2 separate regions of the Homo sapiens genome follow, and region 1 is linked to region 2. Evidence: fine-mapped expression QTL. A gene starts in region 2. The other region holds a variant in brackets. All regions are shown on one strand. Distances are from middle to middle.

Region 1 (16,131 bases), 29 kb before region 2:
CTAGTCCAGGACAATCTGCTCATCTCCACAGCATCAACATAATCGCACAAGAAAGATGCCCTCTGTCATGTGAGGTGACAATCACAGGTTCCGGGATCAGGGCAGGACACCTTGGGTTGGGGGCGGGGGTGGTAATTATTCAGCCCACAGCAAAGCTGGTCTGAATCCTAACCCAAAGTTAATTAAAATGGAAAAAATTCAAGAGATCTATTGCATAACACAGCTATAGTTAATAGCAAGGTATTATGTTCTTGAAATTGATGAGAGGTCTCAAGTGTTATTAATCACAAGTAAAATATGTGCAGTAATGCACGTTAATTAGCTCGATGTAACCATTCCACCATGTATACGTTTCCGAATGTGTGGTACACAATAAATATTAATATATACAATTTGTGTCAATTTAGTAAGTTTTTTTAATGGAGAACAAGCTCATGATCTAATGCCTGCTCCCAACACTAACTCACTTTAAGAGGCTGCCTTGGGTGAAGGACCCTGTGAGGCGCTTGCTTAGGGCAGGGCTCCTGGCACTGGCCAGCAGGTCATTTTAAATGAGGGGCTCCTGGCTGGGCACGGTGGCTCACACCTGTAATCCCAGCACTTTGGGAGGCCGAGGTGGGCAGATCACTTGAGGCCATGAGTTCAAGACCAGCCTGGACAACATGACAAAACCCTGTCTCCACTAAAAATATGAAAATTAGCCAGGCGTGGTGGCAGGTGCCTGTAATCCCAGCTACTTCGGAGGCTGAGGCACAAGAATCGCTTGACCCCGGGAGGCGGAGGTTGCAGTGAACTGAGATTTTGCCCCTGCACTCCAGCCTGGGTGACAGAGCGAGACTCCGTCTCAAAAAATAATAAAATAAAATAAATACATGAGGGGCTCTCAGTGGGTGACAAATCCGCCAAATTGAATGCTGACAGCATCATCAGGGGATCCCGGAGGCTGCTGGCAAAAAACGCCAGAGGCGAGTCCTCCTGGCCCAGGGAGACTGCTCCAGCTTGGAGAGGGGGCACAGCTGGCTCCTGGAGCAGGTGTTTTCACTTTGGTCACCATCCACACTGGTGGTCAAATGCTGCAAAGTGCCTGAGCAGGATCAGGCATCTACAAATGGGCGCCCCTCCCCAGCCCACCAACCTCATAATCCCTCCAAGAAACCTATGTGGAGGGGACGATTTCCTGGCCTGGGCATGGGGAGGTGCGAGGGCCCAGGGGTGGGGCTCAGTGGTTGGTGCTGGGCAGGAGTGGTCCTGGGCACCAGCCCTCAAGGGTCCACCTGCTCACGAGGCAAGTTGTGCCCATCCCACGCACACTCACTCCCTCGTCCCATCTCACGGCGTCTTCCCGCCTACTGTAGGTTTCTGTGTAGAAGGCCATGCCCCTCCAGAAAGGACTCTCGGTCCAAATCCTGTGGCCCATCCCTGAGTGACAGCTCCGAGTGCCTCTTTCCCATTTCCCTGATGGATGTGAAATTGCAGTGTGAGCATGAAAAGCAGCTCTCCAGAAGAGCTTCTGCCCGGCGGAGATGGGATTCCAGTTTGAGTGGCGTAATGAAGTGCTCCTTCATCAGCCTTAACACGCAGAGCACAGGTTTAACTTCTGGTGGGTATAAATGGGCTATTGCGGTTTTTCTGACTTCAGGAACATACGACTTTTGTGTTCAGGATGTAGAAAAATTAAAGTCCTAGACCAAAAAATGAAAAGGAAATAAGGTGGCCCGCTGGGGCTTGTTTTCTCTGCTCGGGGAGTTTGGATGACTTCAGAGCGGGGAGGGCTCTTTTCTTAATTCAGTTCTCTAAAGTTGGTAATTTTGTTCATGTCCGTATCTGTACCCATGAAGTAAATTTGTGCAGTAATATAAAGAATAAAATTTCATGTCTAGATCTGTAGGAAAGAAGTTTAATTTTATAAGCTATTAGCACTGCCGGTCCTGGAGGGAGCAGTTTTAGCATTCTTACCAGCTTTGTGAGGAAGGCATTGTTGATTGACGATGAGCTTCTCCTGTGACAACATGCCAGGGCTTCACGCAGGTGGCTTCAACACCCTGGAATTTGGCTGCCAGGCAGCAAAGTTTGGTTTCTGTGCCACTGGAGCAGGCAGGATGACAGCCCCTAAGGAGGTCCCAATTCCCTTCCTCCAAGGACACCAGTCACATTGGATTTAGGCCCCACATGAATCCAGTGTGGCCCCATCTTAACTTGATTCCATCTGCAAAGACACTTTGTCCAAATGAGGTCACAGGTTCTGGATGGACATGAAGGCTGGGGCTATTATTAGTCAGCCCAGTACAGCAGCCATCTACTTCTCTGATGCTGAGAGGTGGCTATGTCACAGGAGGGCTGGCTCCCATGGCCTCGAACATTCATGCTGGGTTGGGCCTGCCTGGCCCTAAGTCCTGCAGAGCCGTGTGGATGCATGGCTTTTTCCACTCCCTCTTTTTCTCCTCCAAGTTCACAGCCCCCTCTGTTTACCCCTTAGGCTTTGCTAACAGTGAGGACCTGGAGGCTTCTTTCTCCCTGAATGGCATCCTCTTGCCAGGCTCAGGATCCTGCTGTGTGTAAGGGCCAGTAAAAGCATCTGCACCATTTACACCTCACTTTTGACTCACTAAATCCAAACCCCAGCCTTCACCAAACACAGAGAGCTAGGTCAGGAATCCAGCCCTTTCCCACAAAAATAATAGTCACATGGCTGGGTGTGGTGGCTCTCGCCTCTAATCCCAGCACTTGGGGAGGCCGAGGCGAGTGGATCACTTGAGGTCAGGAGTTCGAGACCAGCCTGGCCAACGTGGTGAAACCCCATCTCTACTAAATTCCTGACCAGGTGCAGTGGCTCATGCCTGTATTCCCAGTGTTTTGGGAGGGTGAGGCGGGAGTATCACTTGAGGCCAGGAATTTGAACCAGCCTGGGCAACATAGTGAGACCGTGACTCTACAAAATATAAAATAAAAAAGTAATTGGGTGTAATGTGTGTCTGTAGTCCCAGCTACTCTGGAGGCTGATGTGGGAAGATTGCTTGATCCCAGGAGGTTAAGGCTGCAGCCAGCCATGATTGCACCACTGCACTCCGGCCTGGGAAACAGAGAGAGACCCTGTCTCAAAAAAAAAAAAAAAAAAAAAGCCGGGCGTGGTGGCTCATGCCTGTAATCCCAGCACACTGGGAGGCTGAGGTGGGCAGATCACCTGAGGTCGGGAGTTGAGGACCAGCCTGACCAACATGGAGAAACCCCGTCTCTACTAAAAATACAAAATTAGCTGGGGTGGTGGCGCATGCCTCTAATCCCAGCTACTCGGGAGGCTGAGGCAGGAGAATTGCTTGAACCCAGGAGGCGGAGGTTGCGGTGAGCCAAGATCTCACCATCGCACTCCAGCCTGGGCAACAAGAGCGAAACTCCGTCTCAAAAAAAAAAAAAAAAGGCCGGGTGCAGTGGCTCACACCTGTAATCCCAACACTTTGGGAGGCCGAGGTGGGCAGATCGCCTGAGGTCAGGAGTTTGAGACCAGCCTGACCAACATGATGAAACCCCATCTCTACTAAAAATACAAAAATTAGCTGAGCCTGGTGGCGGGCACTTGTAATCCCAGCTACTAGGGAGGCTGAGGCAGGAGAATAGCTTGAACCCGGGAGGCAGAGGTTGCACTGAGCCAAGATCGTGCCACTTCACTCCAGCCTGGGCGACAGAGTGAGACTCCATCTCAAAAAAAAAAAAAAGTCACTTTACTCCGATGCCAGACTTTCAGGAAGAAGCTTATTTTCACTTCTCCATTCTTAAAAGTGGAAACCTCCCTTGCCCTGCATTCCTCTTTTCTGTGAGTCCCTTGAGGGCGTCTCCTCTCTCCTCCAGCTGTCTGCAACCTGTCAGGACCCCACACAGAGCTCAGCTTGCCGGCAGGAGCCTGTGACACGTGGACCACCCCATCCTCTGGAAACACTCCCTTCACTTGGCTTCCAAGACACCTCCTTAGCCTGGGAACCTCAGGTCCCTACTCCATCAACATCCAGGCCCTCACCGAGCACCCGCAGGTGACTCCAAATGCATCCTTCCCAACCCCAATCACTGCAATCAGACGTGCAGAGCCGCTTTTGGACAGCTGTCTGGAGAAGTCCTTTAGGCTTGAAAGAAGGGATTCGTGATTGACTTGAGAGTTCCAGAAAAGGATTAATATACCAATACAGTTTTTATTTATTTATTTTTTGAGACGGAGTCTCCCTCTGTCACCTAGGTTGGAGTGCAGTGGCGCGATCTGGGTTCACTGCAATCTCCGCCTCGCAGGTTCAAGTGATTTTCCTGCCTCAGCCTCCTGAGTAGCTGGGGTTACAGGCATGCACCACCACGCCCGGCTAATTTTTTGTATTTTTAATAGAGACGGGGTTTCACCATGTTGGCCAGGCTGGTCCCAAACTCCTGACCTCCAGCAATCTGCCCTGACAGCAGCTCTGATTAAGCAACAGGGAGATGCTAGGGATGGGTAAGGGGAGTTATGCAATGGACCTGCCCAACTTCAACTCCCACCATCAAAGCCCTAGAGGTCAAGGGGCTCATCCTGCGTTTCTGGGAAATGCCGTGCTACCTGTCGGCCTCCTCAACTCCCTATGCGTTCTGTGGCTGAATTTTGATGTCACTAGAGACACAGCCCGGCACAGAGACCAGAACACAGGTTTCTGTGCCGTCCTCACCACTGGGAGGCTGTGACCAGGCCTAGTCCCTGAACGTCTGGGGGTGTCTGCTCATCTCGTCTCAAGACACGTCTCTCACGATGCATTGGTTTGGGATTCGGTCAAACAGAGAAAAAACAAGGTCCCTGGCACTGGGCTGGCTTCCTCTCCATGCAGCCCTTTGACAACCTGAGCATGCTTAGCTCATTTGGAAACCAGCAAATGCTGAGTTTTCTTGTTACTATCCAGCTTTCCATCATTCGGCTGCTTTTTCTTTCACCCTTTACATTCTGTACTTTTCATTTGCTTAATAGATTCTAGTCCAACAAATCACTTTGTAGGCATTATCTCCTTTAAAAGGCCCTATTTCCAAAAGAAGAACATGTGAGAATGAACATTTAAAAATAGTTACTCAAGTGACTTCATTGTTTGAGAATCCCCATTAACATATGTGGCCCGTGTTAATAACAGTGTGTATCACTCTGCGGCACACAGCAGTTTCACATTATTGCAGCATTCCGCTCCTGCTTAATGTGCTTTTTTTTCCAGGTGATGGGATTTTGCACCAAGTGAAATAATTGGTAATATTGAGGATCATCCATTTTTTATTACCTAGAATTCAGAAGTGATCAGGACGGGCCTGGTGTGACTCTGAGATGATGGGCTGTTGGGAAGTGTGATGTGATGTGGTACTGTGCGCTCTCCAATCCTCCGGGAAGCAGCATCTCGGCCCCTGGGGGTGGGGGGCACGAGGCCGGCCCCAGGGACCCTGTACTTGTACAGCCCGTCCGCAAATTCAGGCAGGACATGCGGTCGCAGTCTCACCCTGGGATCACTGACCACAGGCCCAGTGGGTCCCTGTCAGTCTTAAGAACTTTTTCTCCCCATCTGCCCATGACACTGTGGAGAAATGAAAAGCTCTGTCCTGCCCAGCTTCCCCGAAAAGAAAGTCTGGCTGAGCATCTTCACATGGAGCGAGAAGACGTTTGCTTCATGAGGCCAAGAAAAGCCAGTTACACACACACCGACGTCTTCAGGGCAGGCACATGTTTCATGCTTATTTATTCAATCACCGCTTCATGCTGTAGGGTGAACCTGATCAACTATCTAAATTCAGAAGAAAATGTAAAAAGTTGTCTGATAAAAAAACAGTCTTTACTCTCACAGAACACTTCTGATGCAGGATGGGAAAGTGGCTCTCCTTCCCCACGTCACACGATGCTCCGGCGGACACTGAGCATCCTATAATATCCTGGCATATGCCCTGCCACCACCCACCTGGAGGCAGCATCAGGATCCCAGGGCTGAGGGCTCAGGCCCACGAGGCTGCCCGCCCCGGCAGATGCCAGGCGCAAGTAGTGGGCTGTCACCTACGCTTCTGACCAACTACAGAGCAGGAACTCCCTCTCCAGGTTCAGCTGATTTGCCAGAGCAGCTCTGAGCTCGGGAAACGCTTTACTCACGCGTGCCCGTTTATTATCAAGGCTGTGACAAGGGCACAGAGGAACGGCAGATGGAGGTGTGCAGGGTGAGGTGTGTGGGAAGGGGACCGGGAAGCTCCCATGCCCGCTGGGTGTGCCACCCTCGGGGAACCCCCATGAGTTCAGCAACCAGGAAGTTCTCAGAACCCCAGGCCTCTGGGGTTTTATGGAGGCTTCATTACGTAGTCATGACTGATGACACACCACTGGCCACTGGTGATCGACTCCACCTTCTACCCCCACCCCCCCAACTTCCTGGAGGTGGGGGAGGGGGAGGGCTGAAAGTCCCCCCACTCCAATCACCAGACTGGTTCCCCGAGCAAGCACCCCCTCTCCTGAGGCTGTCCAGGAGCCACCACAGATGGCCTCATTAGAACAAAAGATGCTCCCATCACCCAGGAAATTACAAAGGCCTTAGCAGCTCTAGGCCAGGAGCTGGGGTCAAGGGGTCAAAGAGCAAATATGAAAATGTGGGCTTCTCCTCGTGCCCTATCTACAGGGGTTGCAGGAGTTCTGTCCCAGGGATTTAGGGCCCAGACCACATCTGTTTCTTATCTCATCACAATATCACAGGCTGGTACCCTGATGACTCTGTCAACCCTCCAACTGACTTTCTGGAGAGAATTTCCCTCGTAACATCGAGGGTGCACCTAGCTAGGAGCAGGGGCTGGCGGGACAGACGGAGCGGATGGATGTGGTTACTCACTCACCGTTCACACAGCCCGGGGCATCAAGGGCACAACGCACCGGAGGAAGGATCCGAGAGCTCTCCCGACGCCACCTGCCTTTCCCCTTTTGTGCAAAGGCCTTATGAAGAAAATCTGTTTGACACCATGGGTTATTTTTACATGTGATATATCCTGAAGACATGAGTTCTGTCTCCGGAAAGTGGTATCCTTCGTAGCACAAGGCTTTTCGAAACCTGCCCCGTTTTTTTTAACCTGGGCTCACAACTCCGGCCCCTCTGAGATCCAGTGATACCATGAGTGTCATCTGTATTCACTCTATCCTACTTCCACTGGTTGAAATGTCTTGTATTTTTCTATAGTTTTTCTATACTTTCTATTACACAACGAACAACAACGTGAGGGTTTTTTGGTTTGTTTTTTGTCTTCTCCAAATGCTGAAACTACCCTTCCATGCAGAGGAGGCTGCAGAATCAGGAGACGCGCCGGAGCATCCGAGGGCTGTGCAGGAGCGCACTTCCCCACCCTCCCCTCAGTTCCCGACTCGGGAAGCTCTGCGCCTTCTACACGACAGGGGAGGAATCCACACGCCACACCAGCAGCGACTGAGGACAAACCACGCAAAGAACCGGCTCATGGATTTCGCATTTGAGATGCTTTTTATAATAAAGTTATGCCAAAAATACAGCAACAAATACAGAAAAAGTATTAACAAACGGAGAAGCCCCAGATACACGTACAGTAACAATACAAAAATGTGACTGGTCAAACAGCTCAAGTTCACATTTAACACTTTCAATTATTTTTAATTACACTATTTCTGTTCAAAAGAATGTTTTCCTTACATACAACCATGATCAGTCTTTAGTCTCAATCGTACCAAAATAAAGCTATATATAAGCACTCTGACTAGGTAAGGTGTGAAGTACCCCGTGAGTTGCTCTGTGGCTTGAGATGGGACACATGGTCTCAAATGACTCTTATGCATGCCTTGCCTTAAGAAAGAAAAGTAATGTTGATGGTTTAAAAAGTAAGTACTTTTTGAAGCAGCAGATGAAATGTGTTTACTACCAGCCTAAATCAAAGAACATGGCAAGAGCAAGATTGTTCTCAGGAAGGAAACCATAAATATGGCATTTATGTAAAATCCTTGCAGCATCTGACCATGCTTTTATCTTTAAAAAAAAAAAAATCCTCACTTTCTTAAATATAAGTAACAGTTTATTAATTTTTTTTTTACAGTGAGATATGGCTATGGGAAGCAGGTGATACTATTTGTTTAAGAAACTGGGATGCCAACTAACACGTGGAGTTCCCCAAGACTTTGCAATCTCCATTTGTGAGTTTCTGTAAAAAAGGGAACCCAGCTAGAGGATTCACAGAGACCTTGAATGACAAGCGACATACTCGAAATCTGCAGCTCTCCTCCCGGAGGGCCCAGCGTGCCAGGAGACACGCTGCAGTAAGGCACTTACCAAGCTCCTTTGGATAGAGGGAAAGAAGAAATCAATCCAGGCAACATGCAAGTTTCAGTGAAGTCAGACATTTTATGGGAATTTAAAGTCTTGCCTGTTCTCAGTGCACCCCAGTCAGTTACTGACATGTCAGCCTCAGAAACCGCACATGGCCTCAGGAAGGTCAGGCCCTCCTGCTGGTGGGCACGCCATTGGCTCTTGATCGCTGATGGTCTCGATGATGGTCATATTTCACAGAAATAATGAGGAAAAGCAGGAGGGTAGCTCCTTGAATAGCAGCCAGAAGAAAAAAGTAATAGTTCAAATAGCAGCCGTTAATATTACCTGGAGAAAACAAAAGGAAAGCGGCAGGTAAGCTGCGCTGCTACAGGTATTTTTTCAAGACTTTACTATTTAATCTGGTTCCCACTAAGGTTTAACTGGAGTCATAAAAAAAGTAACAAATGTTGTCTCTGTAGTCCAAAATGCACAAGCATCTTGCTTTCAAAACCACTGAAGAAGCTCCCTGAAGTCAGATACATCGCCACCGGGGGCTCTGGAGGTGGGCTGTCTGCAGCCCCCCACCTGCCCCTAGCAGCCCATCCCTCTCTTCTGTAAGGTAAAAGGAGGAGGTTCCCTGAGGAAACTAGAAAAGGTAGCTCCCCAGTACTCAGGAAAATCCCTGCGTGGCCTGCAGACACACATGCGGTGGTGAAGGGGACAGTGTCGACGGAGAGTGTGCCTAAGGCCGCACGACAAGGCTGCAAATCAGGAGCAAGGGGAAACCTGCCAACCCAGCCTCCTGTGACTGCTAATCCCCCCACACCAGAACAGCTGGGCAAAGTAAAAAATTACCTTCCTGTGTTCTTGCCACCAGAAACAAGTGTTAGCCGGTCTGGTGTTATTTCCTTCCTGCCTTTTCTGAGGCAGTGTTCCTCTCCTCAACTACTTCAGGGGAACTTCCTCCATTTATAGTTATGATTGGCCTGGAACTGCATTGTTGAGGAAGGCAGATGCGAAGATAACAAAAGAGCGCCTGACTATCTCTTTATCGAATCCTGAGGTGAGCGTCTTTGTAACTTGGCTATGGAACCTGTGCACTTTTTAGCATCACAGATTGCACTATGACACAGCCTGAACATCGTGAATTCTGGATTCACTGCATGGGTCACTGACACACCCAACACACCAGGGCCGACAGCTGGGCAATGTATCAAAGGAAGAGATGAGCTGGTTTCTGAATGTGTCTTAAACATGTTCAGGTTTTAGCATCCTCAAACTGACACAAGCAGATACCTCTGCATACTTTAATACAAAGAGTTAGCATACACTGAATACCCAACCGAGTCCCGGGCACTATGGAGGCACTTTACACGCAACGTCTGCATCCCAAGCAGGCTGGACAGCACAGAGGATAAGATCATGGGCCATGCAGCTCAAGCTATAAGGCTTGAATCCGGCCTCTGAGACCTCTGTGCTCAGTTTCCTCATCTGTAAAATGGGGAAAGCGCCGAGGAGCAGCATTTCAGAAAGGCACTCAAGAGGGAG[T/C]CTGGACGCGGTGAGGGTGCTAGCAACACGTGCCACGGTCATGATCCCCCTTTCACAGAGGTCTGGAACTGTCCACTCTGCAAACTGGCAGTCTCTCCGCCAGAGAACAGAGTTCAGCCAGCACCGGCTAACATCACCACTCAATGTGCAGACGTGGGAACGACGTGTGAGCAGAAAACGGCAGGACTTTTAGCTCGTCATGACTGGTCATCCAGGCCAAGCCGAGTGTCGCCCTGTGCTCTCCACCACGGCTGCTCCTGCCACCATGGCGTCCCTCTGTCTCCGTACCATGTACATCACCTGCCACCAGCTGGAAAGCACTGCTGCACGTTTCTGCACGAGGTCGCAGGTGCGTGTGGCCGGCAACATCACGAGGGGAGCGAGTGCTCTGGAATCAAGTTGCTCCATTTTCTGCTCCTCTTCAAAAACACTTTCTCATTTGTTTATTTTAAAAAGTGAGACTTCCTTTCTTCTGAAGACCTTTTTAAAGCTGGGTTATTCTGGCACTTCCTTTTTCTATCTGAACATATACTGCATGTTCAACAGTGCATTTATCAAATAAACACAATATAATACACGTCTGGGCCAGGCGCAGTGGCTTATGACTGTAATCCCAGCACTTTGGGAGGCCAAGGTGGGTGATCAACTGAGGTCAGGAATTCAGAATCAGCCTGGCCAACACGATGAAACCCCGTCTCTACTAAAAATACAAATAATTAGCCAGGCGTGGTGGCTGGCGCCTGTAATCTCAGCTGCTTGGGAGGCTGAGGCCAGAGAATTGTCACTTGAACCCGGGAGGTGAAAGGCTGCAGTGAGCCAAGATGGTACCACTGCACTCCAGCCCGGGCAACAAACGTGAAACTCCATCTCAAAAAAAAAAAAAAAAAAAAAAAAAAAAACCCACACATCTGTATGGTGAGATCTCACACATTTTTAAAGAGTGCTCATTCACACCAATTAAAGAAGATCATTTCCTGTGTCTACTGATTTAGAAAGACAGCTGCTAATACCCTGAATTCTACCAGACTAAAGCTTTATTTTTTCAACAGATGTTTTACACTATTCGTTCAACCCTTACGACCTACCAGGCTCTGTCCTGGGCACTCAGTGGAAATGCAAACCCCAGCTTCCTGGAGCCTGGCACTAGCTGTCACTGCTGTCCCAACACTGGCATTTGACGCTACTGAGACGAGGTTGTCATCAAAATATAAACGACATCATTTTATGTGCCTATTTTGAAATACGAGTCTCCCCAAATGTACCAGTCACTGAAAACTTCCCGAGCTAAAGCTGGCAGGCCACGTGAACTGAAGGCTGAGGCCACATGAACTGAAGGCTGCGCGGCCCTGCGGGAGTGGAGGTGCGGTCCAAGCCCGCAGGCAGACACACCACGCCTCGTCAGGGTCTGTCTCAGGGTGGCATTACACAGGGTATTCGGAAACGCCTAAGTCGCCTGGGAGAAAACCTGCCGTGCATTCCTGGGCCTCTTCACAGACAGAAGGATAATTACACAGGAAGATGGCAAACACTAGGGTTTTGACATTTGACAAGACAGACTCTTGGGTCCCCAAGGAATGAGCGCACCCGCCCCCCAGGCTCACAGGCAGGGCAGGTATTCACAACAGCCCCACACTGCCAACATCTGGGCACCCACCGACAACAGCATGGATAAATGCCTCGTGACGGCTCGTACGAAGGAGCAGTACTCAGAAGTACAGGGGAGATGCTCACAGACAGAAGTGCTAAGTGAAAGGAGACAGCCACAGCCCAGCACAGGACAGGCGAGGGTAACCTGTGGGGACCAACGCTGGAATAGAACAGGTTTACCTTCTGAGGGGGGCAGTAAACTAAGGAGAGAGGCAAGGAGGGCTTCCAAAAGTTCCTCCACTGAGATCCAGACTGCAAACACAGCAAGCTGTGCTTAAGATTAGAGACCTTTACTATGGTATGCACGTTCTCCCCAGCTTAAATAACACTAATAAAAGGAGCCTGCTGGGAGGTCGGTAAGAAAAACACAATGTAACAAAACTCTGGGGACTCTCCCTTCACAGTGCTGTGACTTTACAGAAAGCTATTTCCTGTGTCGGTCACGAGATGGTGAGGTAGGGCCAGGGATAAGGGTGGCACAGACACCCCCGGAACCTGGCCTGAGAGCTGCTGCTCCTTCCAAGGCCACACAAATTCAGGGAGAACTCTCTCTGAGGAGCGGGCTTCCTGTGGATTTCCCATGTCACAGCCTTTATTTCTCTACCCAGGACGCCAAGGGCTGCTCGACAGATGAGCTCCAACTCTCCTTACTGGTGTGAACCAAGGAGGCTGCCATGCAGCCAGGGGGCACAGCCTGGGGGCTGCTGGCAAACACGCCTCCTTCATGAAACATTTCCCATTCTTGAAAACAACAGACAGATCCTGGCCCATCCCCAGCACACACGCCCTGAGAGCACCAATGCAGGGGAAGTCCACAAACAACCTGTCAGACAGAAATGATGAATGAAAGGTCAACTCTGAGATGTGAAATTAAATTAAGAATGAGGATTAAATGACTAGAAAGCAACGAGAATGACCAGCCAATCCTTTATGACACATTTAAAGATAAAACAAAAACCAAGAACCAGAATCTTCGTCTTCAGAACTATGGACTTTGGTCTTTCTTTGAAGGAAGTCTGTCCCATGTACCACAAGAGGATCTTATTCCTCGGGCTGTTCATCTTCAGGAGAAGGTGGGAATGAAACACCAGCCCCAAATCCACATGTCCTCCTCAGAGCAAGCAGCCCTGAGCTGGCCATGGAGGTGGCACCCACAGCCAGAAAACATCAGTGACAAGTGTCCATGGGACATTGGTGGCTTGGAGTTCTGGGCTTTACATTAGGACTCCACAGGCCTATACTCATGGAAGGGCTCTGGGAATTCTGCAATTTCTGCAGAAAAGTCCCTAAACGTTCACCAGATTCTCAAGGGGATTTGTAACCTAAAAGTGGCTAAGTACTACCGGACCAGAGCAAATGCCACATGATTATACAAGAAAAAGTAACAAGGTTGTTTCTGTAGATAAAATATTTTTACAAAGGAAAAGAAAGAAGAAACCTTCGCTTGCTGGGTCCATTTAAAGGCATCGTAAACCTGGAGAAAGCAAAACTCAGCTTTTATGAGTGGTTCTGTTCAACACTCAAGATGCCACCTACTGGTATTAATTGTAAAAACCCATTATGATTGATCACAAGTAATATGTTTATTTTTAAAAGTAACTTACTATCTATCTTGTCTTTTTCGTATCAGAAAAGGTGCTGTTAGGAAAAGAAAACGAAAGTACACCACCAAGTTAAAGAAAGGGAAGCTTGGGGTACAGATTCAGCTGCCTCACGAAGACTGAGCTGGACGGGCGTGGAGAAGGTGCTTGTCTGTCAAGGACGTCCCCGTAAGGAGCGGTGGCTGCAGCAGCTGCTCGCTGGGCTGTGGCCAGGGCAGGCTTGGCCCCTGGGATGAGAAGAGAGGCCTGCTTGTCTCCTGAAAACCGTTCATGATGTAAGGAAACACAGTGATGCAAGCAGCACAGAGCAGTGCTGTGGAAGGAGCGGTGGACAGGCAGCTCGGGACAGGCCATCCACGTGAAAACACCTCCGCTCACTCAGCCATCTCCTGAGTGCCTGCGCCTCCCCCTCACTGGCTATTTTCAAAAGGGACAGGATGCTGGCTCTTACCAAAGTCTGTGTGACTGCTCATCCATCCGATGGCTTTGATAGACACCAGTGCCAGCAGTCCAGAACCCACGAACGACCCGACGCCAGAGAAGAAAAAGAACAAGCCCATTATGGCACTCTGCATGGACTTGGGGGCAGCTGAGTATGCAAATTCCAGGCCTGAGGAAAGAAAAGGGAGGGTCGTTTTTGTGAAAGGGGCACTTTAACACATGGGATCAAAGCTTTCACCTAATATAGCAGAGGAAGCGTGGGGTCTCCTAGGGACTGAGTCCTGCAGACAGGCACAACCTCTTTTCTATTAGGAGGACGATGCTTACTAGCGACCAAGAATCAATGGCTATGGGCCAACTGTTCATTCTCCTAGCCATTAGGATAATTCCTAATAAATTCAATGAGCAGAAAGTTAAACTCCTTGCTCTCAAGCTTAAAGGTAATGTGATTTGTTGGCTCTTAGACTTTTGTGTTCCTTAAAGAGATTAGAGAAAAAATTTTCCTATATTGTCAAGGAATGGGAGTTTGAAAACAAAGTACACACACTAAACTGGGAAATCTACATAAGGATTCTATTTCAGAGGCAATATACTTTATCTTTTTTTTGTTGAGACGGAGTTTTGCTCTTGTTGCCCAGGCTGGAGTGCAATGGCAGGATCTTGGCTCACCGCAACTTCCGCCTCCCTGGTTCAAGCGATTCTCCTGCCTCAGCCTCCCGAGTAGCTGGGATTACAGGTGCGTGCCACCATGCCTGGCTAATTTTTTGTATTTTTAGTAGAGACAGGGATTCACCATGTTGGCCAGGCTGGTCTCGAACTCCTGACCTCAGGTGATCCACCCGCCTCGGATTCCTAAAGTGCTGGGGTTACAGGTATGAGCCACCGTGACAAGGGCAATAGACTTCAAAACTATTTTGGCAGGCCCATCTATAAATTTAGATTTTTATAACTAGACACGGAGATTTGTAGTGTATTCTAAATAGAAGTCCATTCCGTTGTGATTTATTCCCTTTACAAATTCATTAGCCAATTCTGGATGAGTTTTCTACAGTGAAAACCACCACTGACTACTACCCACACATCCATCCACCTCTGCATATCACTCATCTTCTCTTCTCTCTCACTCTCAGCAGCCGGACAGATCTGCCCAGAATACACTTGTTCAACCACTGCAGGATCTCACTAATAGGAAAAGGGAGGCCTGTGAGAACACGTTTCTAAAAATTAGATCTGCTTCTTTACGTACATCTAAACGAAGCGCACTGAGAGCTGTGAGCTCAGCCCAGCCACCACGGCAGCATGGCCGAGGGCTCCGCTGGGAACTATCCAACCACGATTGCTTTCTTCTTCTCTGTCCTGTGGCACTTACAAGGTAGTTAACAAACTTTCATGAAAATATTTTGCGATACTGTTTTTACACAAAGAATGGAGAACCTCAGCACTGGTGTGTTTACCTAGCGATTCATATTCTAAACCACACACTGCCAAAAACTACAGAAGTGCTGTGCTATCCTTGTCTCAACATATTCCAACAGCACAGTCAGAATGCCCGAGCGCTCACGCTTGTGCCTGGACTCAGACACCTCCGGCACTAAAGGTCCTCACCTGCGATACTTGCAAAGATCTCGCTGATCCCAATCAGCAAGTACTGCGGCACCTGCCACCACAGCGACAGATCGGCAGCATGGTAGACGACGTTGCCGATGGTCTGATTAATGGTTTTCTCTTTAACAAGGTTCAGCCTTTTACTCTCCAAAATTCCTAGAATTCAAAAGTAGGTTAGTGTAATATTCATTTATTAACATTTACAGTTAATCTAAAAATCTGATGTTGGCTACGAGACTTCGTAGCAAACGTGATTCTGATGCGTGAAAGGACCACGTCTAATCACAGCTTCCCCCAGGACTAATAGGCCCCCAGCCTTCAGCCTCCTAAGCAGGCTGAGTGGAGGTCATGGCATAGCACACCTATTTCACTTCGGCTTTTTACAGCATCTTATATAAAATCAGATGTTCAACATGTTTCATTTAATCCTCAAATATCTGGATTGCTCACCCATACCTCGTTTGTCTCTTACAAAGGGGAGTAGGAGAAAGTTAAAAAGTCCTACTGTAGAATTAACAGTAGTGCTATTTTACCCAACAGCAGGTAATACTGAGATGTTCTTCCAATCATAGTGATGGATCGAAGGTGATCTACTGATTTATTATTATAACAACAAATGATGATAATAATGATGATGATGATGTTGGTTTCCCTGCATAGGGTAGGCTTAATCTTTGCAACAAAGTAAGCTGACTTCACAAATCAACCTGTGCTCTCAGCAGCATTGAGATCTCACTGCAGGTGCAGGCTAAGTTACTGGTCACCTATCAAGTGTAACAGAAAGACATGAGAAAAACAAGCAAGGGCAGCAGCTCCTACTCTATAAACAAAAATCAGCCACTGGAAATAAAGTGTAAAAGCATCTATTCGCAGGTCCAAGTCCTTAGGTTAAAGATACCACCAAGTTTTATTTTATAAAGAATTCTTATTGCAAATTAGGTCACAGGCCCTAATATTTAAAGCGTATGTAAAATATGTTTATTTTAAAACATGAGTATGAAGAAAGGTCTGGT
Region 2 (16,131 bases):
AATAAAAAGAAACATGTATAAAGCATGTCTTCTGTCTCCTCGATGTCCTCCACAAATTTCTACCTTTATAATCTGGCACCAAAGGAGCTTCCGTCTACACTAGCAGTGAGAGAAAGTGCAACGTGGGGTTAAAGCATGAGCTCTGGAATCAGGCCACTGGCCTGTCTTTAAGATGGGATAATAAGACCGCACCCGCCTCCTTGGGGAAATGCAGTGTTAAAGGAGAGAAGACATGTAAACCACTCAGCCCAGGCCCAGCACACAATAAGCACACAACAAACCGAAGCTAGGATGTTAATAAAGAGATCGATAAAGTCCTTTCAAACAGCCCAAGATGAGAACTAAGTGCTTACCCATTACTCTGGCGCTCTCCACTTCGCTTCTGGGAACAGCAGGAATACGTCAGTATCTTGAACATGTCGGTGAAGGCACTGCCATCAGGAGGCTTGGTGATGAAAACGCTCTGGCCACAGAGGAAGACCACAAAAGCAAGGCCGACGCAGACAGTGGGGATCGCATAACCAGTGACAAAGCTGACGTTCTGCTGAATATAGGCAATGCCACCTAACGACAGGATCGCTCCCAGGTTAATGCTCCAATAAAACCAATTAAAAAATCTCCTAGTGGCTTCCGGACCTCGATCTTTAACCTAAAATAACAGGGAGGAAAGACACTTGAAAATATATGACAGTCTTCAAGGATGAAAACCATATACGGTCAAGTGGTTAAAATTACCGTTGTCATCACAACCTTTAAGAAGCGCAACACAATCAAAATTGTGTTTACAGAAACATTCACGGATCTCAACAAAAAGCACACCCCACGCTTTTAATTACTACAGTTGCTAGGTAGGTTTCACTTAATTACACTAAATTCCAACAAATGCTAGAGAGTTTTTCCAAGTATATTCTGCTGTAGAATTTTCTAAGTACCTGAACCACTTGCCTTGGAATTACCTGGAATGCTCTTTAAAAACAGAGTCCGCTGGGCATGGTGGCTCACGCCTATAATCCTAGCACTTTGGGAGGCTGAGGCGTGTGGATCACTTGAGGTATGGAGTTCGAGACCAGCCTGGCCAACATGGTGAAACACCGTCTCTACTAAAAATACAAAAATTAGCCAGGCATGGTGGTGGGCACCTGTAATCCCAGCTACTTGGGAGGCTGAGGCAGGAGAATCGCTTGAATCCAGGACATGGAGGTTGCAGTGAACCGAGACTGTGCCACTGTACCTGGTTGACAAGAGTGAAACTCCATCTCAAACAAACAAACAAACAAAAAACAAACACAGTCACAGGACCCACGCTCCAGACCTACTGAATCACGGTCTCTGGGGCCCAGGCCCAGGAATCTGCATTTCAAGCAACTTCCCAGGTGACTTCTACTCACAGGTAAGTTTTAGAACCAATGTTATAAAGCTCCATGCCTTACTGAGCTACATGCAAGTACCATGAGGCACCCCACAAATATGCTTAGGCCCCAAAGAGAGACATTTGTTCAGTGAGGCCAAGTCACCACCCACACCAATTGTATCTGGTCTCCTGAGAATCAGAGATCTCAGTAAACTTGAAGCAAAGAGGAAATTATAGACTAAAGATAAAACCACATGCTATTTTTAGATTAGACAGGCTATCAATGGAATCGGAGAAATTCTGATAAGGGTGGGATTTCCAAAAGGCTCAAAAATCACTGACTTCCTGGACTCAAACAAAAGCACTGAGGTAATAACGCAACATCTAGGCTTATGGAGTTCACGAGGCTACTTCAATGGAGCCCAAGCGGTGGGAACAGGTCATTTGGGGGCAGACACACCAGAAGCCTTCTCTGCCCACCTGGATTTTTACGTCTAAATAAGATACTGTGCAAATGAACCCTGTACTAGACAGAGACATTTCTAGTGAGTTTCATTTCATAAATTTATTTTTAACAAACTTATGAGAGGCTGATACTGGATCTCATAAAAAGACTCTCTTGCTGTCTTAAAAACTTCTACTGTCTCATTCTTAAGTCACAGGTTATGAAAGAGTTAGAAAATTCTTATTCTAATAATAGATCTAGTTTCTGGATCCATAGAACAATCTGCTCTACTGAATAACACATTCTCAATGGGGCCAAAACAACCAATTACGGTTGGGCATGGTGGCTCAGGTCTGGAATCCCAGCACTTTGGGAAGCCAGGGCAGGCAGACCGCTTGGGTCTAGGAGTTTGAGAGCAGCCTGGGAACACAGACAGACCCCCATCTCTACAAAAAATTACAAACATCAGCCAGGTGCGGTGGTGTGCGCCTACAGTCCCAGCTACCTGCGAGACTGAGGTGGGAGGATCCCTTGAACTGGGGAGGAGGTGGCAGTGAGCTGTGATGGCACCACTGCACTCCTGCCTAAGCGACAGAGGCCCTGTCTCAAAAGAAAAAAAAAGATATGGTATGTAATAAGCACATGCATCTTTTTAGCAGTCATATATTTGATATGGTATTTTAAACTCTATTTTTTAAAGATTAAATCAGAGGAGTAAAATTTATAGTTAAAATTGTGTGTTCCTCTCTAAAGGAAATAGAGCAAAAGAAAAAAAATTGTGTGCTCCTCAAAAAGAGATTTGTTTGAAGTCCAAATGATTAAGCATGGCCACTATGGTGGCAGGTAATTAATTATATATAGTAACACCACTTCAAACGAAAAATCTAAATTTAAAAGAAAATCACTTATTCTCAAGAGTTTAAACTTTTCTCTTATCTATTACAATACTGAACAGAGGTCCTAGACCAAATGCAGACATCTCTACTGAATAAAGAGTTTGAGGTGAGAACTTCACAGACATCTAAGACACTTCTTCACTAGGACACAATGCATTTAAATATTGCTCAACAGTGGACACCAATTCTCATGCTATACTAGACATGGACCAGGAAGAAAAATGAAAAATGTGAGCAGAGAAATGGTTACTGAGAAAACAAAACTAGAAGTGCGAAAAAATAACAAACAAAAAGTAATTTTTTGACAAGCATAAAAGAGGCCAGTAAACATAGTATATAAACTTAATAGAGGCACAAATGATTTCCTAACTGAAATGTACTCGGACCTTCCCATTACCCACAGTGACACTGCACACACCTTCCCACGGTCTCACTCGGGCCTTCCCGTTACCCACAGTGACACTGCACATATCTTCCCACAGTCTCAGACTTATGTCCTCTTCAGATGAAGCATGAAAATATCAGCATTTGATTACTCTGGGAAAATCCTAACCTTAAAATGCCATTCATCCTCATTTCCTGTGTAATTGTGGTGGTCAATTTATTCCAACTCCAAGAGTAATCCATCAAAATTACTTTATAAGCCAAAATTACTAAGCCCTAAATAACCACACAGCAGGCATTTCTGTACCAAGGGAACCTGGCTGCTGTGAAGGGACATCACATGCTTCCCAGCCCCTGGCGAGCAGGCCACAACCTCCTGCCCATCGTTTGCATGACATCACTGTGTGAGCTGCAGCTACGTGCCCTACCAAGGGTAAACAAGGTTTTCACATGACTGGCCAAAAGATACCACCAAAATCAATTTGGAGAAGAAAAGCTAAAAGAATAGAATTGTGTACAGCATACCAAACAGTTGGCTGACAGAAGAATTCCTTAAAATGGGGTGTCAGTTTTTCCTCTAGAAAAAAAAAAAATGCATCATTTGCTCTTTTCATCTGTAACATAAGATTTTCGTCTTTCAGGTCACTATTTCAAATAATCCATCCACCAAGAACGATTGTGACCTTTGAAAAAGGTGAAACACTGGGGGAAGATACGGCCTGACATGATTTACACGAACATACGTCTCCCTTGGACTCACAGCTCACACATCCTCTTTCAGAAGCCAACTAGGCCTCCTTCTCAAAGCTATGCAGCCTCACCCCATTGTCTCTCCTATCAGAATGTTTCCCAGAGGCTCTACCTGGGAGATGAAGAGGTAAGTGACAAAGAACCATAAAAAGCACCTTAAAAATACAAACAGGTTTCCTCTAAATGAAAAGGACCAAACCAGGACAAATTAACCCTCGCCTGGGGCACAACAGAGTGTACTTCAGGCCTGCACACCTCAGGGTCCCCAGCCAGGCCTCCTGCCATGAAGCAGCCGCACCTGGAGGGGGACCTGCCACCTGGTCACGGGCAAGCACCCTGGCATAAGGGTACTTTTCCCTTCAAATGTTTTTTCACTATGATTCACATACCATAAAATTCACCCTTCAAAAGTGTACAATTCAGTAGTGTCTAGTATATTCAGAGATGTACAGCCATCACTGCCATCCAAGTCCACATTCTCATCACACCAACAGGAACTCCTGTTCCCTTTAAGTCAGTCCCACGCCCCTCTCCTGGCCCGTGGCAACCCTTAATCTACTTCCAGTCTCTGTGGACTCGCCTCTTCCGGGCATTCCACATCAATGGAATCACACAACTGGGGCCTTATGTGTCTGGCTTCCTTCATGCAGCCGAATGTTTTCAAGGCTCATCAGTACTTCATTTCTTTTTTAATGGCTGAAAAATATGCCATTGTATGGATATACTATATTTAGTTTATACATTCATCAGTGAACATTTTCTTATCTTTCATTTAAAAAAATTCCAAATGTATAGAAAAGTTGAATTGCAAAATGCACACCTCTCTACCCTTCACTTGGAGCCTCAGCACTTTTTTCTATACATAAAAAATACTGGCCGAGCGCGGTGGCTCACGCCTGTAATCCCAGAACTTTGGGAGGCCGAGGCAGGTGGATCACCTGAGGTCAGGAGTTCGAGACCAACCTGGCCAACATGGTGAAACCCCGTCTCTATTAAAAATACAAAAATTAGCCAGGCGTGGTGGCTCACACCTGTAGTCCCAGCTACTCAGGAGGCTGAGGCAGGAAAATAGCTTGAACCAGGAGGCAGAGGTTGCAGTGAGCTGAGATCATACCGCTGCACCCCAGCCTGGACAAGAGAATAAGACTTGGTCTTAAAAAAAAATACTTCTGGGTGATCTACATACAAATAAGCTCCAGCAACCAATTTCACCCCCAAAATTTCATCATGAATCTCCTGGAAATAAGGACATTCTTTTAACGGCAGTGAAATTACCACACCTAAGAAAGGCAACATTGGTCCATTATTAGCTAATAGGCGGTCTACAAACTATCCCAAGCATCCAAGAAGAACGGCCATGAAAGCAGCTGGGATCCAATCACTCAGCACGCGCTGCAGGGGGCGGCCAGGTCTCCCGAGTAGCCTTTCATCCACAAGGTCCTCTTTTAACATGACAGCATTACGTCGGAAGAGATCAGGCCAGCTATCTTTCGGAAGAAGGCACATCTCCTTTCAACATCCACATTTAATTATGGATGAAAGAGCGCATATTCTGTCAGATTCATCTGAGATAACCGAGCACCATTTCCTCCTCATTTTAAGAAGTATCAATTACTCGCCTGTTATATCCTGGAGAGCACCAGCTTTTAAGTCAGGCTGCCAGGGCCCCAAACCAGCTCCCCTAGGCACCTGCTGTGCAGCCTTGGGAGCTAACCCTCTAGGCCTCTGTTCCCTGGACAACAGGCTTAACTGCAGCACACACACCAGCAACTGTGGCGAGGCTTAAATAAGATCACGTGGGAAAGGCACAAGTAAGAGGCATAATAGAAGCTTTCCAGTACACCTGTGTGGGGTGGCCAAGTCTTTAAAAGATAGAGGCTGACTGTGCTACCAGCCCCGTTCCTTCATGAGCCAATGGCACCCCAAGGCCAAGAGCCTGGGCCTTGAGATCCAGCCCTGCAGAACCATTACGGAACGCACGCACACTGGGCCCATCTTAGTGTGGTAGCTAAAAAAGAACCAGAGCTGGGATAGAAGTCCAGCTTGACCACTCACTACCTACAGGCAGTAAGAAAGTGATCTGTTTTTGTGCCTGTTTCCTCATCAGTAAAGTGGATCTAAGACTCCTGTGAGGTTCAGATTTCGTCACATATGTAAAGCATACGCCACTGTACAAAAAACCCAGTTCCAATTCAGTACATTAGAAACTATCATTTCTAACGTCATTCTAAGGTGTCTCCTGACTGTAACGGATAGCCTTACACAGGCAGAGTGAAAGCTCACATTCAAAGGACAGGCTTTTGAATCCTGGCTCAGTCACATACAAGCTGTGTAACTTTGGGCCAATGATTAAACCTCTCAAGCCTCAGTTTCCTCATCAGTAAAATGGGCACCGTACGTGTCATGTAGACTAAGTAGTCGTGTAGACATGTAGACATGTAGCATACGTGTCATGTGGACTAACCAGATACTGTACTTAGGTACTTAGCAAGCACTGTGCCTGGTGCACAGTAAGCTCTCAGTAAATGTTCCTAAAAAACAGGCACTCACAGATACTTAGGCAAAAGCCTAAGAGTCGCCTTCCCTACTGCTCACATGCCATGGTTTCCATATCTGACCCTCCAAACCTCATGAAGAAATGTGATCCCCAGTGCTTCTCGTGGGGCCTAGTGTTTGGGTCATGGGGACGGATCCCTGAAGAAAGGCTTGGGGCTGTCACAGGAGTGAACTCTCCTATGAGAGAGGTCGTTTACAAGCCTGGCACCTCCCTCCCCTCTCTCACTTCCTCTAGTGCATGTGATCTCTACACAGCTGGCTCCCATTCACAAGGCCCTCAGCAGTGCAGATGCTGGCGCCCTGCTTCTTGTACAGCCTGCAGAACCCTAAACCAAAGAAACATCTTTCCATTATAGATGACTGAGCCTCAGGTATTCCTACATAGGAACACAAACAGGGAGACAACCTGCCAGTACTTCCTGCCCATTCTACTTCCATAGCTGAACTCCATCCATCCACTTCACCCACCTCCACTGCCTCCACTCTAGTTAGGAGAGACTCCCACCTCATGTCCCTAATGTCACCACTTCCTACACAACCCATTCTCTACAAGCATCCGCACACTTCTGTGAAGGGGCAGGCAGTTCACATTTTGAGTTCTATGAGACATCTCGTCTCCATCACAGTTACTCAATTCTGCCACTGCTTAGTGAAAGCAGCCCCAGTGTAGTGGCTGTGTTGCAGAAACAGGTGGGGCTATGTTCCAATAACGCTTTATTTATGGAGATTGAAATTTGATTTTCATAAAATTTTCACTGGTCACAAATGATCCCGTTTCCGACCACTTAAAAATGTAAGAACTAGCTGGGCGCCGTGGCTCATGCCTGTAACCCCAGCACTTTGGGAGGCCGAGGCAGGCAGATCACAAGGTCAAGAGATCAAGACCATCCTGGCCAACACGGTGAAACCCCGTCTCTACTAGAAATACAAAAGTTAGCTGGGCACAGTGGCGTGCACGTGTAGTCTCAACTACTCAGGAGGCCGAGGCAGGAGAATCGCTTGAACTCAGGAGGTGAAGGTTGCAGTGAGCTGAGATCGCGCCACTGCACTCCAACCTGGCAACAGAGCGAGACTCCGCCTCAAAAAAAAAAAAAAAAAAGAAAGAAAGAAAATATTAAGAACCATTCTTAGCTTGTGAATCCTCAGAAAATAAGAAGCAGACCTGACCTGCTACCCCAGCTGTAGTGCCTGCTCTGCACAAATCACTCCCTGCTGGAACCCAGTAAAGCTCTCGACTGTATCCCCAACGCTTTAACACTCCTCACATGATCCGGCCCCAGCCTTCCACCTCACTTCCCACTTTTTTTTATATTTTCTGAAACGATCTGACTTTGCTATTGCTCTTAAAGGCGGCCTATTCTGCATATAATACTTGGTGGCCACGTCCTTGCCCCTCCTGAAGAGCTGCAGTGGTTCCTCCCTCACTTCTTGGCAGTTACAGTTGCAGGGGAGCAGCTTGATGCTAACTTGATTCAAACTCATTTTCATCTGAGCTTTCCGACCCAACCTAGCCCGTAACTCCTTTAAAGCCACGAAGACGCAATATGAGTGTTTTCCCACTTCTTTGTAAAGGAAGCTAAGGCAACAACGGGGGCTTCCCCTTCCCTCAGCTTCCTGGCCCAGGGCCCTGCACCTGCGAATCCCCATGTCTGGAAAGCTCCTCAAACAACTGCTCTTTCCTAGCCTTCTGGTCTGAACTTACAGGGCCTGAACATAGAAGGGTCCCGTTCATTTATTTTTTATTTATTTATTTATTTTTATTTGGAGACAGAGTCTCGCTCTGTCGCTCAGGCTGGAGGAGTGGAGTGGCGCGATCTCGGCTCATCGCACCTCTGCCTCCCGGGTGCAAGCGATTCTCCTGCCTCAGCCTCCCGACTAGCTGAGAGAACAGGTGCCCGCCACCACGCTCGGCTAATTTTTGTATTTTTAGCCAGGCTGGTCAGGCTGGTCTCGAACTCCTGACCTTAGGTGATCCACCCACCTCGGCCTCCCAAAGTGTTGGGATTACAGGCGTGAGCCACTGCGCTCAGCGTATTTTTTAAATTTTATTTATTTATTTTTTTGAGGTGGGGTCTCACTCTGTTACCCAAGCTAGAGTGCACTGGTGTGACCCTAGCTCACTGCAGCCTCCGAAACTCGTAGGCTCAAGGAATCCTCCTTTCTCTGCTAGGACTACAGGTGTGCGCCTCCACGGAGGGCAAATTTTTAAATTTTGGTAGAGATGAGGTCTCACTGTGTTGCCCAACCTGGTCTCAAAGTCCTGGGCTCAAGAGATCCTCCCGCCTCGGCCTCCCAAAGTGCTGGAATTACAGGCGTGAGCCACCGCGCCCGGCCTCTCTTTTCTTTAAAGCCACTGTGGCCATCACTGTGTGTGTAGACCTCACCCCGCCCCAGGCAAACCCCTTCCAGCACCCATCACACCGGTACCTCCAGTCTTGGCCCACCTGCTGGCGGGATTCCTCGGCACTAGACAGAAGCCCCCCGGGGCAAGGGGCTCCCTCCGCGGTCAGAGGCAGGGACTGGGGCAGGGGAAGAGGCTGGGGCTGGGCAGGGGCTGGACAGGGACAGGGACAGCGCGCGGGGGCGCGGCTCACCTGGTCGGCGCCGAAGGGCGTGATGTTGGCCTTGACGGTGGCCACGCCCAGGCCCACCAGCACCAGCCCCGCGAAGGTGGCCGGTGAGCAGCAGCGGGCGGCGGCGTCGGGACCAGGCGCCGTGCAGTTGAGCAGGCGCGCGGAACCGCAGAGCGCGGCTCGCGTGGCGGGCGCGGCCAGCAGCGGGAAGGCCAGCATGCCCAGCAGGTAGAGCGCCAGGCTCAGCAGGATGGCGCGCGCCCGGCCCAGCCGCGCGTCGGCCAGCCAGCCTCCGAACGGCGAGCCCAGGTAGGTGAGGCCCATGAAGAGCAGCAGCGCCTCGCTGGCCTGCGCGCCCTCCCAGCAGAACGGCGCCCCGTTCAGGAATAGCACCAGGTTGGACGTGATGCCGTAGAAAGCGGCGCGCTCCAGCAGCTCCGTCAGCAGCACGGCCCCGCACGCCGCGCGCCGGCCCGCGAACGCCCCAGCCGCCGCCGCGGCCGCCGCCGCCCGCCGCGCGCCCAGCAGCGGCGCCCGCTCGCCCGCACCGCCCCCAGAGCCCTCCATGCGACGCCGCCAGCTGCCTCGCCCCGCCGCCGGGTCACCTGTCCCAGAACCCAGGGCCGCCGCCCTTCTCGCGAGACTGCCGGGCCTGAGATGTCCCTATTGGGCGGGCTCGCCGCTGCTCAACGCCCCACTCGCCGGAACTTCCGGCCCCGCCCCGGGCACTAGGCGAGGAGGTGGCCGGTATTCTGGATCACTGCGTGTCTTGGGGAGCTTGGGATTCCGCAGCTTGGCGGCCGAGAGCCTTTGTTTGCCTTTTTGAGACAGGGTTTCCCTCTCTCGCCCAGGCTGGAGCGCAGTCATGCGGTTACGCCTCACTGCAGCCTCAGCTTCCCAGGATCAAGCGGCCCTCCCACCTCAGCCTCCCGGGTAGCTGGGACCGCAGGCGCTCGCCGCTGCCTGTGGCTAATTTTTAAACAGTTTTTTGAAATGGGGTCTCGCTTTGTTGCTCAGGTTGGTCTCGAACTCCTGGCATCAAGCGTTCCTCACGTCTCAGCCTCCCATAGTGTTGGAATTACGTGCATGAGCCACTGCAGGCAGTCGGACTAAGGGAGTTTAAACAAAGAAGCCGGAGCCTGGCCCTCTTCGGGCTTCGGTGGGGCCCAGTAGGCAGCCAAAACTCACACTGAGACGGCGGCTGCTCTCCAGGCGGGTTTGCTCAGGCTGCCCCCGTGCTCCCTGCCCTGGGCTTCAGTCCTGGAGAGGACCCGGTTTCTCAACCCGTGCATCGTTGGCACTTTGAGCGACGGGACTGTCCTGTGCGTTGCACGATGTTCAGCAGCAGCTTTGGCCTCTGCTATCCACTAGGGGCCAGTTCCACCCCCTAGCACCTCAGGTTAACAACCGAAAATGTCTTCTAGACTTTGCCGAAGGACTCCTGGGGGCAAATACGCCCCCATTGAGACTCACTGGCTTAGAACAAGGCAAGCTCCAGCCTGTTTCAGGCTTTCCCAGAGACTGCCCCTACACCATCTATGGTTGCATGGCTGGCTTCTCATCCTTCAACCTTCCACCGAAGTGTTGACTTCAGAGAAACATTTTTTTCACTAGCCTGTCCAAGGCCCGAGTATCCCATTCCATCATGTTACTCTTTTCTCCTTATTACCTGTTACATTTTTTAATTTATTCGTTTATCTCCCCAACCTGCATGTGTTAACAGGTGTAAGCTTCCTGATGGCAGGATTCTCTTGTGTTTTGTTCCTCACTGTGCCCCCTGCCTCTGGGACAGCGCCTGGCACATAGTGGAGTGAAAGAGTGCCGCCCAAAAATGGCCCTCAGCATGGCTTCAGAAATTGAGACCCCGGCCTGGGATGGTGGCTCACGTCTACAATCCCAGCACTTTGGGAGGCCGAGGCGGACGGATCACGAGGTCAAGAGATCGATACCATCCTGGCCAACATGGTGAAACCCCGTCTCTACTAAAAATACAAAAATTAGCTGGGCGTGGTGGCAGGCGCCTGTAGTCCCAGCTACTCAGGAGGCTGAGGCAGGAGAATCGCTTGAACCAGGGAGGCAGAGGTTGCAGTGAGCCGAGATTGTGCCACTGCATTCCGGCCTGGTGACAGAGTGAGACTTCGTCTCAAAAAAAAAAAAAAAGACAAAAAAAAAAGAAATTGAGACCCCGGCCTGGGATGATGGCTCACGCCTATAATCTCAGCACTTTGGGAGGCTGAGGCAAGAGGATTGCTTGAGCCCGGGAGGTAGAGGCTGCATTCAGCAGTGAGGGCATCACTGCACTCCAGCCTGGGTGACATAGTGAGACCCTGTCTCAAAAAAAAAAAAAAAAAAAGGCAAGAAAGAAAGGAATCGTGATCCACAGCTGCTGCAATGATTCAATTAGTGTAAGACCACCTCCTCTTCCTTCATCATTCCCTCCAGCTAAGATGAGGGTGGAGCCAGTAGCTGGGAAGTTGGCTTGCCAGTAGGTCATCTGGAGAAGTAATCCTGCCAGTAAGTCTTGAAGTTGCATGCATTCTCTTTTTAAAAAACTTTTTTAAATGTCCGACAGATAGACTGATGGTCAGCACAGTGCTGCCACACAGCAGGCAATATATATTTAATCAATGTCTAAGGAGAGAATAATTGAATGCCCGAATTGGACCTTTGCCACCTGTCTGTTGATGCTTGTCATTTCCAGCTGTCAGCTCAAATATCACTTTCCTAACCCTGCCACACTAGGTTAGCTCCCCGTTTTTATGGCCTTGGAACTCCCTATACTTTTTTCCCACAGCACCGGTTATAATTTATACTTATTTTGTGCAACTATTGAATGCCTGTCTTCAAAGCTGGGATGGCCGGGATCTTTGTTTTAACCACGATTGTAGTTCTAGAGGCTGGCACAGCACTTGCCAATGATAAATAGGTATTAGATTGAACTGGATGAGTGAATGACTGACCATTTGTTGAATGTAAATGATGCAAGTCACCTTATGTTCTCATATATGTGTGTGTATACACATATGTATATCTGTGTGTATATATGTATATATGTGTGTATATAAGTGTGTGTATATGTGTGCATGTATACATGTGTATATATATGTGTCTATACATGTTCAAGGGCATATATTAGTATTTTAACTTATTATTGGATACTAATATATGTCCTTGAACATGTACATATAGACACACACACACACATATGTGCCATTTTTTTTTTTTCTTTTTGAGATGGAGTTTCGCTCTTGTAACCCAGGCTGGAGTGCAGTGGCACAGTGGCTCATGCCTGTAATCTCAGCACTTTGGGAGGCCAAGGCAGGCAGATCACTTGAAGTCAGGAGTTAAAGACCAGCCGGGCCAACATGGTGAAACCCCATCTCTACTAAAATTACAAAAATTAGCCAGGCGGTAGTGTTGCGCACCTGTAATCCCAGCTACTCAAGAGGCTCAGGCAGGAGAATCGCTTGAGCCTGGGAGGTGGAGTTGCAGTGAGCCGAGATCACGCCACTGCACTCCAGCCTGGGTGATAGAGCGAAACTGTCTCAAAATAAAAAATAAAAAAGAAAGCAATAGAACTCAGACTTCAATGAAAGGCTTATATCTAATTATGAGTCCAGTGCTGCTTCCACTTTGCAGTTGGTAGAGGAGACAGAATCTTTGAGTATTTTTTCTAAGACTGATAGGTTTGACGCTCAGGCAAAGTCTAGAGTAAAATTAACATTAAACATGGAATGAAAGCAAAGCAAATGATTTGAATCATGTGATAACCCAGTGTCCAAACAGTGCTCAATACACTCTGCCATTTTTGAATGATAGTAAACTAATCCGATTGCATTGCCTCATTTGAGAAAACTAAAGCTAAGTTTAAAAAAACAAAAAAGTGAGCCAAGACCACATCTGGCAAGATCACATTTATATGCAATGGCCAGAATAGGCAATAGGCAAATCCATACAGACAATGCAGATTAGTACAGTTTCCTGATACTGGGGGAGGGGAGGGGAAGATTGGTGCACATCTCTGTGAATGTACTAAAAAACCACTGAATTCTACAGTTTATATAAGTGAATTATATGGTATGCGAATATGTCTCCATAAAGCTGGTACCAAAAGAAAGTGAACTAATAGTTACAGTTTGAAAGGTTTCACATATAAATTTGGATGCCTTGCTATTTGGGGAAAATAAATGTGAGCTCTGGCAATGCTGGACTTGTGATTACCTGTTACATTAGTATGATCCCATCACTTTGAACCATGCCCCATAGTATTCAAGCCTTTATGTATTCCTCAGAGATCACACCACAGGGCCTGTCCTGTGACCTGTTTTGACCAAGAGAATACATCAAAAGTGTCTCTGGGCCTGGTCTGGGCACAGGCTTAAAGTCTGACACCTTCCACTTTCATGACTGGGGTGTCCGGAGCCATCATATTAGACGTCCACCTGCCTTCCATCATATGTTGAGGAGGAGTCTGCAACTATGTGGAGAGGGGATTCTCAGCATTCCAGATGACCTGCCTACTGAATGCAGCCATGTGAAGACCAGCAGAAGAACCACACAGCTGAGCCTCAACCCAGATAGCAGAATTGTAAACAAATAACATGGTTGTTCTTTTAAGCCACTAAATTCTGGGGCAGTTTATTATGTAGCAACAGGTAATGGAAACACATTTGCTTCCCCCTGTAGCCACAATCTGCTGACACTCAGCAGCAGCCACTGTCTTTAGATGGCAGACACTTTCTAGCTTTCCTAAACCCTCCCCACTCACTATTGTCTTATTTTTGTTATCATAGAGAAAATTCTCCATATCTGCATAGTCCAGCGCAGGAGCCACTAGCTATGTGTGGCTATTGAAACTAGTTAAAATTAAATAAAATGAAAAATTCTGTTCCTCAGTTACACTAGCCATATTGCAAGTGGTTTGTGGCTAGTGGCTACCGTATTGGACAGCATAGTCTATTTCACACCATCATTGCAGTAACTTCTATCAGCAACCCCATTCTTTTTTTTTTTTTTTTTTTTTTTGAGACGGAGTCTTGCTCTGTTGCCCAGGCTAAAGTGCGATAGTGCCATCTCGGCTCACCATTACCTCCACCTCCCAGGTTCAAGTGCTTCTCCCGCCTCAGCCCCCCAAGTAGCTGGGATTACAGGCATCTGCCATCATACCCAGCTAATTTTTATATTTTTTATAGAGGTGGGGTTTTACCATGTTGGCCAGGCTGGTGTTGAACTCCTGAAGTCAGGTGATCTGCCTGCCTTGGCTTCCCAAAGTGCTGGGATTACAGGCTAGAGCCACCACGCCCGGCCAGCAACTCCATTCCGTACTAAAATGTAATGGATATGATTGACTAATTAGCCAACATCCATACTCTTTCTTTTTCCAAACAATCCTGATTCTCTTCACATATTTGTCTTCCTTAACCCACCCCTGTCCCCACCAGCTTCCCATGTAGCTCAGGAGAACCTGACTTCATCCTTGTTCCCAGATAGAACTAGCCCACACCAGTACTAGTCTCATGCCTCTTCATGGTGACCAGTTCAGGAACGCAGACTCTAACCTTTCAGGACACGAAATTTCCCTGGTGCCTGCGGTTACTGACCCAGCAGTGGACAAATGAGGTAAGTTGACCCAGTCAGACTAGAGGCAAGGCCACTTATTGGCTGACTGTGGGCGAGGCACATGCTCCCAAACTGGATGTGAGTTAGGAAACCTGCAGCTCTAATAGCTCCTGATGGCTATTGACAACCATGAGATGAACCAGCTTAGGATGAGACTGACTTGGGGGATGGCACAGGAGACTCAGGGAGAAGTGAGATAATAAGTCTTAACATTGTTTAAGCCACTGTGTTGGGTTTTCTGTTATTTGTATTACTTGTGGCCCCAAGCCACCTATCATAATTCTATCAAAAATGGAAAAAATAAAAGAACTGGAAGGCTAGGGCAGGAGAATTGCTTGAACCCAGGAGGCAGAGGTTGCAGAGAGCCGAGATCGCACCACTGCATTCAGCATGGGCGACAGGGTGAGACTCCGTCTCAAAAAATAAAAAATAAAAAAATTAAGGAACAAGAGAGGCCAGCCTGATTTTTTTCTCATGCCTGACCCATGAGTTTTCTGCTGGGCTTCTGTAATGATTGGGTTTGCAGCCCCTGTACTGAGCCCCCAGTGATGGTATAGCTAAAGAATTGATGTAAGGTGATTCCTCCCACTTTATTGGATATGCTCGCAATATACTTCTGCCCCAAAAAGTGATCCTATGAGTCTCTCCTTTGCAGCTAAAATTAATAAATGACCCAACCCATACAGTAGGCATCTAAGGGATAGGTAACCGTGTCTTCCAAAATAACATTTTTGTCTATTGGCTCTTCACCTCAAGGGCCCTCTAGAAAAGGGGCAAGGACACTCTTTGCAAAGGTGCCTGTGGTGTGGACTAGACTTGGAAACACAGGGTTCTCCCTTCTCTGGTACCACTTTGTCTCCTGAGCCTCACCCAGTGCAGAGCTCGAGTGGGTGTGATTTAAGGCAGTGAACTGAGAAACCGTCACAGACAGGACATTCAGGGGACTGCCTGACTCCTCTGGCTGTTTCATGACATTTCTGCCGTAGTTTCACATCTCTGTTGAGTTGCTCACTCCTCACCGCCAGACAGTTGCCTCTCCTTACTGACAGTTTCAGCTTCCTCAAAACTTCGGGTTAGAAGCAGCTGTCATAGCCTTTCTGTGCCATCTGTACATCACTAACTCACTCAACAAACAACTGTTGAACACCTGCCCCCTGAGTCATGACAGCTCAGCCTCAGCTCAGCTCAGCCTCAGCACTCACGGCCAGTGCTTCAGCTTCTCCAATTTCCCAGATCCCTAGGGAGGGACTCGGATAGGCCCCCTCACCTTTGTGCATCAGGCCATAGCATAAGTCATTAGCCATAGTACAGCCACAGGCCATGCCACACATCTTTTGAATCTCCTTGGGTACAGAGAGTTGCCATAAATTCTATTTACTTCAAGGAGTCACTGTTGCAACCACTCTTTCTGGCTACAAATACTCTTGATAGAAGCAGAAGGTATAAAAAGTGAAATCAATAAAAACACAGGCAACCAACGGAATAGAATCAGGTGTTAAATCCTTGATCCTAAACCAAAGCCACACTAATCTACTTTTAGTATGAACTAATTCAGCT

Evidence for each region.
Region 1: its variant is fine-mapped to the expression of SLC15A4 in monocytes after R848 (Quach 2016, PIP 0.95). The same link has a PIP of 0.9 or more in monocytes after Pam3CSK4.

The regions. Positions count from the first base shown.
Region 1 is chr12:128,785,736-128,801,866 of GRCh38, forward strand. It overlaps SLC15A4 (solute carrier family 15 member 4), which reads right to left. Exons shown (of 8, transcript NM_145648.4): 6 at 15,119-15,274; 7 at 13,524-13,682; 8 at 7,459-8,621. The coding sequence ends at 8,461. Among named protein-coding and RNA genes, the nearest start is that of SLC15A4, 30 kb to the right of the region's middle. RefSeq lists enhancers at 6,045-6,134, 6,133-6,633, 6,185-6,344, 9,409-9,548, 11,429-12,628 and 4 more. The variant T/C (reference allele first, on the strand shown) is at 9,825.
Region 2 is chr12:128,814,422-128,830,552 of GRCh38, forward strand. It overlaps SLC15A4 (solute carrier family 15 member 4), which reads right to left and starts at 9,537. Exons shown (of 8, transcript NM_145648.4): 1 at 8,977-9,537; 2 at 354-649. The coding sequence starts at 9,522. It overlaps LOC124903083 (a long non-coding RNA gene), which reads left to right and starts at 9,523. Exons shown (of 2, transcript XR_007063602.1): 1 at 9,523-11,469; 2 at 13,248-15,025. RefSeq lists enhancers at 3,503-3,582, 4,223-4,332, 7,548-7,667, 7,728-7,807, 9,288-9,447 and 2 more.